Homo sapiens: one gene and its partner. The protein of the gene in region 1 purifies or fractionates together with the protein of each later gene. This does not show direct contact. Each region holds a gene or a part of one and is shown in the gene's direction. Other genes may lie near its edges. The genes, in order: SYTL5 and LIMCH1.

Region 1 (3,823 bases):
TATCAAAGATCAGTTTTCAAACAAAGCAGTAAGAGCCTATTGCAAAATAGGCATTTTTCCCAACTTTCAACAGATAATGGTATATCCAAAGATGTCTGTGGCCACAAACAAATGTATAATTTTTAAGTTGCATATTTTGACTAGAACTAGATATGTACTAAAAAACCATTTTGTGATGAAGAATCACTTCCCACTAATTGAGAGACCAGCACAGGGAGAATACTATTGATCTTAAATACAAGGAAGTCCAGACATTAATATGGAAAAAATATAGATTGGGATGTCCTGTTTGCATTAGCCATGTTCAAGAAGGAAGAATTTAATTTGCTTTGAACTACTCACAGCTGCCATCTAATTATTTTTGTTGACTGTTACAGAGTTTGAGCTCCAAACACAGGAAGGTTATTTCTAAATCAGTTATACACAACAACCAAACAGCTATTGATTTTCTTTCAAGTGAATTCCCATCTGACTCTTATTGTTCTTGTGAATAATAGTCATATGTATGGCTTTATACTTAAGCACAATAGGATATAACTAAATATTGGCTCAACTCAGACCTAAAGAGTAGGTTCCTGAACAGTGAGAATATCATCTAGTGATAATCTTTCACTGCTTATACTGGGAAAAATGTTGAACCTGGGTCAGCAAACATGAAATGTAGGTTCAGTACTGCTCCTAATGATAATGCCAAAGGCTCACACTTTCTGAGGATTTACCGTGACTCAAGAACTATTCAAGTGTTTTCTATGTAACCAAGGCATACAGAGGTTCAGTCATGTTTCTCAGAAATTTTAGAGCCAAGATTTAAACCAGAGTTCCTGCTTTGTACCAGAGTCACTTTGGTCAGCTTAAGTAACTTCCAAAGGCATCTTCCTGGGGTATTTTTTCCTGCTGCACCAATTTTTACCTTTCTTCCTGATTCTCAGGCTCACTCAATCTATACTGGTATCTGCGAACCTGTCACTGACCTCACCCCATCTCCAGCATCTCACTGATTGGTTTCCTCTCCATGATCTTTTCTTAAGGGGACCCTGCATTCTTTGGGCCCCTCATCATTACTCAAGGCCCCTAGATCTACTGGCCCCCTCAGTCCTCCTAGTCCCTCAACCACCACCAACTCCTCCTCTCCTAGCTTAGCTCCCCCATTCCTGCTCACAGGAGCCAGGTAGCATCAGGACCTCCCCAATCTCATTTTCCTCTCTACCCTCTCCACACTCTGACTACTGTTTCAGCTTTTATTTCTTTCTTTAGTCAGGGCAATCTGCTCTGATGTCATATCCTACATCCTCTCTACACTGTCATAATAAAACTCTTTTGGTATGTACAAGTGTGTACCCTCCAAAGCAGGAGTGCTGGGCACTGGTATAAATTTGACCAATACAAAATTAAACACACACACACACCTGTGTGTTATGTTGTATATTATGTTATATATAATATTGTTGTGTGTGTACATATATGTTATATGTATGTATATTTAATTCTACAGTATATTATAGTGGTCAAGAGCACAGTCAATAGAGTCAGACCCCTTAGTCAGAATCCAGCTTCACCACTTACAAGCTGTGTAACACTGGACAAGTTACTTAACCTCCCTCTGCCTTGGTTTTCCTACCTGTAATATGGGAATAGTGAAAGTATCTAAATCAAATAATTGATATTGTAAACCAAAAGGTATCTGAGACAGGTCTCAATCAATTTACAAAGTTTATTTTGCCAAGATTATGGATGTGCCAGTGATACAGCCTCAGGAGGTCCTGACGACATGTGCCCAAGGTGATTGGGACACAGCTTGGTTTTATACATTTTAGGGAGCCGTGAGACATCAATCAGTATAGGTAAGATGAACATTGGTTCAGTCAAGAAAGGCGGGACAACTCTAAGCAGGGAGGGGGCTTCCAGGTCACAGGTAGATAGGAGACAAATGGTTGCATTCTTTTGATATTTTGATAAGCACAATTTACAGGAATAGTCACTTATGCCTTAGTCTGGCTTAGTGAAAAAACAGGGCAAAGGAAGCAATCAGATACACATTTGTCTTCTGTGACAGAGGGATGACTTTGAGTTCTCCCTGTCCTTTGTCCACAAGAAATTTCCCTGTGAGAAAAATTGTGAGGGAGGTATGTAGCTTTTTTATCTTTGTAGGTATCTTATTTAGGAATAGAATGGGAGGCAGGTTTGCCCAATGCAGTTCCCAGCTTGACTTTTCCCTTCGGCTTAGTGATTTTGGGGTCCAGAGATTTATTTTCCTTTCACAATGTAAAGATTGTACTGTTCATATATGTAAATCAAGAATTCATAACAGGGCCTGAAACTTGTATATAAGTGCTGAGTGTTCACTATCATTATTACCATGACTCATAAGGAAAAAGCATTAAGGCAAGTATAATAATGGAGCAGGAAATATACATTTAAGTGGAAAATATAGTACAACATGGATAATATGACATGTGTGATTAATTACGACTTGAATAATGCGAAGCATGTAATTATTTTTGGCTTTGCATTTGATATCTGAGGAATCCCACCATTTCACATGAAAAAGTGCATGTGACAAGGAATCTTCCAGGAATTTTGCATTAGAAGTTCCTTTTGATCCTCCTCAAAACCCTGTGAAGTTAGTACTATTATTATCTCCACCCTGTATGAAAAGAAACCAAGGTTCAGAGAGGTTAAGTAACTTAGTTTCTGTAACATAGTAATTGCCAAAGCTAGGATTTGAATGCAGAGCTTCCTGACTCCAAAACCTGACTCTTTGCAATTCTCCACTTGAGGTGTCCATTGGAACCCCATAGGACGTTAAAAAAAATCCATGGAACACAAACTCAAGAGATTCTGTTTTTTTGAAAAGCAGCTTTTGTGAGATATAATGTACATACTGTACAATTCACCCATTTGAAGTGTACAATTCAATGTTTTTTTTTTTTTAGTCTATTCACAGTGCGTTTAGCCATCACCACAATCTAATTTCAGAACACTTTCGCTCTGGGCGGGCATGTCCACAGAATCCCTGGGGTCTTAATTTCAAAGCCACAGACCTTGTAGGAGTCTTGAATGAACTTCAAATGATTTGTGAACTTTTTCTAGGATCCACAGCTTTCACTATCTTCTCTAAAGTGATAAAAATATAAGCCAAAAATGTATTAAGAAACTCTAGACCAGAATGGCCTTGAACTTTAAGGTACAAATCACTGGGGGACCTTGTTAAAATTTAGATTCAAATTCAGTAGCTCTGGAATGCGCTAGGCCTACTATCATTAATTTTAATGATAGGAATGCTCACTTTAAGTTAGATGTTATGTGCCCTAAAATTCCATTCTTCTCTTTAGTAGATCTATGCTATGAAATAACTGCACTCAATTATTATTGTTATATTTTTAATGTCATCGGTAAAATATTGGCAGACATTTATTTTCTTGATTGATGCATACTTATCCACAAAATAGCTATGGTTTTGGCTCTTGGCGCAAAAAGTCTAAAATATTTACTAATTGTTCCTTAATAGAAAAAGTTTGCCAACCTCTAATATAGACCATGGGGGAAAGCCACCTTTAAGGAGCAGAAATGTTGTTCATCTTACTCTCCACAGCTCCTTGCTACATGTGGCAGACATGACATTATCAATCAGACTTATAGGAATCCTAACCAAGTATGAGGGGCAGCAAGCTGGCTATATTTATGTATAACTCCTCCTCTAGAGGAGAAATCTGGGCAGATGAGGGTCAACTTCACTTTTAGTTTAAAAATACATCTCCCTAGAGCTTCAAGCTGCTCTCCTGGGTGATAGCATGGGTGGGTGTCCACAAAAGACCTTCATGCA
Region 2 (4,267 bases), on another chromosome or scaffold:
TGTAGCTTTCTATAAATCTAAAAACTATTCTAAAATAAAAAGTTCACTTAAAGTAGGATGAATGACAATAAAGATAAAAGAGCATAATGCAAGGAAACTATGAAATAGGTAAGGAAATACAGAAGTTATTAATAAATATTAAATGTCAGCCTACCACTTGATGTATTTGTGTCAATAAATGGCAGGATACCAGTGAGTCCATTGGCATATTAATCCAATAAACTTTTATAAATGATGAATTGGTTGTAAACATTGTGTTTTATAGCATTTGAAAATTCCAAATGGTAACTCCGCACACGATGCTTCTGCTCACATATTTCAGCATCCTGCTTTTAGAATCTGCAGAAAGAAATAGTTCATGTCCTTTAGGGAGGTTTAATAAAAAGCAACAGGTGGAAAATGGATTTTGCAGTAGCATGAACAGCCATAACCATAAATACTAGTACCTCAGAATTATACCAGCAGAGGACTGTAAACACATTAATCTCCCAGCAGTGCAGAAATTCCATTCTCAGATGTCATCTCAATTTCAGGCACAAAGATTGAATGCCTCCATTTAAATTCAAAACACTGAAGGAATATGATGATCCTTTTTTTTCATGGGGATTCATGGAGTGAGTTTGCCAGTTTCCTCATCTATAAGATGGGGTTGATAAATCCCATCTCAGCATTGTGGGATTAAATGAGATGATATACATAAAATACCTAATATGATGGATGGTACACAGGATGTTTTCAATAAATGGTAGTTTACTTTTTATTATGCTCATGAACATTAGGATGGTCTTAGAATCCCAGAACTAGAAGCCACTTAGAGATTTACTTTTTGAAACATTGTTATTTTACAAATAAGGAAACTGAGACCAGAAGGCAGTGACTTGCCTGGAGTCAGGCAGCAACTTTGTTCCAGAGTTGGGACTGGAGTGAGTCTTTGTTCCTCGGGTCCCACTTGGGTGCTTTTTCTAGATCCAGATTTCCTGACAGTACTGCAAACCTACTGTGTGCTAGTGGCTGACACAAAGCTCTCTGCACAATTCCAATCCTGGCATCTCTACTTCTGAAGATGCCATTCCTTTTCCTCAGAGGGAATGGGCTTCTCCGCCTCCCTCTCCAATAGGTGTGGCAATCAGCTGTCTTCCAGTTCCCTTTCACTGCATCAGCATTTCAGCCGCAGCAGCCTGCTTGTGGACAGAGCAGGGGTTGGCAGTGGTGACGACTGTTTTGGGAAAGGAAATGTAAGGGCATTTCGGCTGCTGTGCTGGGGCTGACGAGGAGCACACAGGAGAGATGCCCCTCCCATCTCCCAGAGTGGGTTGGCTGGAGTTCATTGCGGAGCATGAGGACGTGTGGGGGTAAGTAAAATTCATTATAAAAGAAATACATGCTTAGGGGTATCCATGATGGAAAGAAGGAAGCTATTTAGACTTTAATACTTGGTTTAAAAAAAAGTGACTTTTTATTCACTTATTAGTATGGCGAAAATAATATGAAAATTACTTTCCTGTGGATTCATCTTGTCCTTTGATAACTGTTAGCACCTGTTGCTTTTAATTAAGCTTTTTTTTTTTTTTAATTCCCTAAGGAAAGCATTGTTTTTTATTTTCCGGTATGTGGTACAAGACACATAACTCCATTAGTTTAGTCAAAATAAAAAGGATTTTTGAGAATTTTGAGAATGAGAAGCAACTTGGCTGCATTTTTAAGATGTGGTCCAGCAGCACATGGTGTTGTGGGGGAGATGTGGCTGCATTCATGGTGGGGCTGCTTCACCTGAGCCCCTGTCACATTCTGCTCCTGACTCCACAGCCCCCTTTGCTTTTTAAAAACTTCCATTTCTTAAAATGAGGAGGAAAAGAAGCAAGGAAGACATTGGGGAGGCAGGGAGGAGTCTGGAGGGAAGGGCTGCATCTCCAGCCTTGCCCACTTAGTCCTTGTCCTTCATAGTCACTATTTACTGCAGGCCGGGAAAGGAATGGGGGTTATTTCTGGACAATTGTCTCATAAAATCCCGTCAGACCCGTCTGAATGCTAAACGTTCCATGGCACTGGTTATCTAGGGGAAGAAAATTTTCCTTAGCCAAATTTATGAGGCTGGGTTGAAAATCAGGTTGAAACAGAGCCTGGCGAATCCCTATGGCAAAATGATTCATCTTTGTGGAGTCGGGAAATCTATTTTTATCACCTTTATTCAGCCAGCTCCTGATTGTGATTCTCTCACTGAGCTACAGCCGTTTTCTTCATGGTGCTGAATAGACCAAATGTCTCAGGAGTCTGAAACTTCTCTCCTGCCACTCCCAGAGTGGCTGATTCAGCAGTCCCGGGAGAAGGGGTTTGTCCTGTGCTGCGCGGGTGGGTTCCGCACAAGGTGAAGGTCAAATAAAACCGAGAGGCTGCAAGTGTCAGCAGCCAGCCTTTGACTCAGGAATCCTGCCTGAGGGTATGTGCCACTCTGCTCTCCTGCTCTCTCTGTAAGGTGACTAGAAGGTGACTGGGCAGCCATAACTCCTCCAATTTTGAAGACCTTCCCAAGGGAAGAAGGGGCAAGAATAAGCCACCCTCCTTACAGCTGCCAATACATCTCCTCAATCTAATCATCGGGCAGAGAGGGACTTCCTAACACCGTTGTATTCATTTTCCCATTTCCATTTAGTTCTGTAACTATGCATTCCAGGCTGATACATAGTCCTAGCTGGTTCTTGCTGGAGTCCCAACTAATGCTGAGAGGAGTGGCAATTGTTCTCTATAATAAAGTTTAAAGGATAAAGATATGGAAGAAGAACTCACTCTTGAGTTTCCTTTTCTAATGGATTCAGCATGCTTACTCTCTGGGAGCTATAACAAATGGCAATTAGGAAAGCAACAGGAATGTTGACTAGACAGGAACAGTGACCATGGCTGTTGGGGGTATTCCCTGCACCTGGTATATAGTAGACACTCAATAACAATTTGGGAAATGAATGACCAGGATACTGTTCCCCATAGGCTTCAGTTGGCCTTCTTAAGAGCTCTCCTTCAGGACATAGTATGCAGGGCAGCTAGGAGCTGACATTCTAGAGTGAGATGGCCTGAGTTCAAATCCTGGATTTGCAGCTTCTCAGTTGTGTGCTGATCTTTGGCAGGCAACACAATCGTTTGTTTCCTCGTCTGTAAAAATGGACATAATATAGTAACTACCTTATGTGGTTTTCATGAAGAGTAAATTAATTAATATAGGTAAAGAGTCTAGATTTTTTTTTCTTGTCATGTGGTTCAAGATATGAAGAAGAAGAAAAACAGGAGTAGGAAAAGAAGGAGAAAGAGGAGGAGGAGGAACTTTGGCTGTTGGGATAAATTTGGGACCCTTTGAGATTTTGGCCCTGCCTTTTAGGTTGAATATTTCCCTAAAATCATGATTCAGTGATTTTTAAACCTTCTCTTGTCCTGTAGAGAGAATAATTTGAGAATAAAAGAATAAAACGGGCCAGATGCAGTGGCTTACGCCTGTAATCCTAGCACTTTGGGAGGCTGAGGCAGGTGGATCACCTGAGATCAGGCGTTCGAGACCAGCCTGGCCAACGTGGCGAAACTCTATCTCTACTAAAAATACAAAAGTTAGCCGGGTGTGGTGATGGGCACCTGTAATCCCAGCTATTCAGGAGGCTGAGGCAGGAGAATCGCTTGAACCCGGGAGGTGGAGGTTACAGTGAGCTGAGATCGCACCACTGCACTCTAGCCTGAAAAGAAAAAAAAAGAATAATAAAATGGATTTCAGGGGGAAAATGATGACGAATTATTGCCAAGAGTTATTGAACTCCTGCTCCTTGCCAGGTACTAACCATATTCAGTGTTGAAACAAACTGTCAGTCCTTGCCCTGATGGACGCTGCAGTTGACTTTCAAGGGCTGCTGGGCAGTGTGAATTCAATGGCTCAGCGAACACAGCTGCTACGTTCCTTGTTCTCTACCTTTTAAAAAGGAATGTTGAGTAGATCTAGAAGGATGAAGCTTTAAACTTAGCTCCCAACAGGAAATGAGGAGTGAGGAAGTAGGGAGAGATTTGTGTGTGTGTGGAGTAGCAGATGAAGTCTAACTGTACAGCAGTATAAAGGCAGTGAAAGAAATGTAGACGTGGGCATTGGATTGAACCATGAAACTGAAGGGAAATCCAAAGCAGTAATGTATCATCAACCTGTGAAATGTAAAGAAGCACAGGTAAGTAGTGAAAGAATGAAGGAACCAAAGCAGTTGTTGTAATGATATAAAATAAGAGCCATAGCTTATTAGACCCT

The links.
Region 2: the proteins of SYTL5 (region 1) and LIMCH1 purify together in Homo sapiens (affinity purification with mass spectrometry; one large-scale study listed by BioGRID and IntAct). This does not show direct contact.

What each region holds. Positions count from the first base shown.
Region 1 is NC_000023.11:38,012,789-38,016,611, forward strand, and holds part of SYTL5 (synaptotagmin-like protein 5), read left to right. Parts: intron 1-3,823. UniProt on the Homo sapiens protein: May act as Rab effector protein and play a role in vesicle trafficking. Binds phospholipids.
Region 2 is NC_000004.12:41,536,999-41,541,265, forward strand, and holds the start of LIMCH1 (LIM and calponin homology domains-containing protein 1), read left to right. Parts: upstream 1-1,158; 5' UTR 1,159-1,352; intron 1,353-4,267.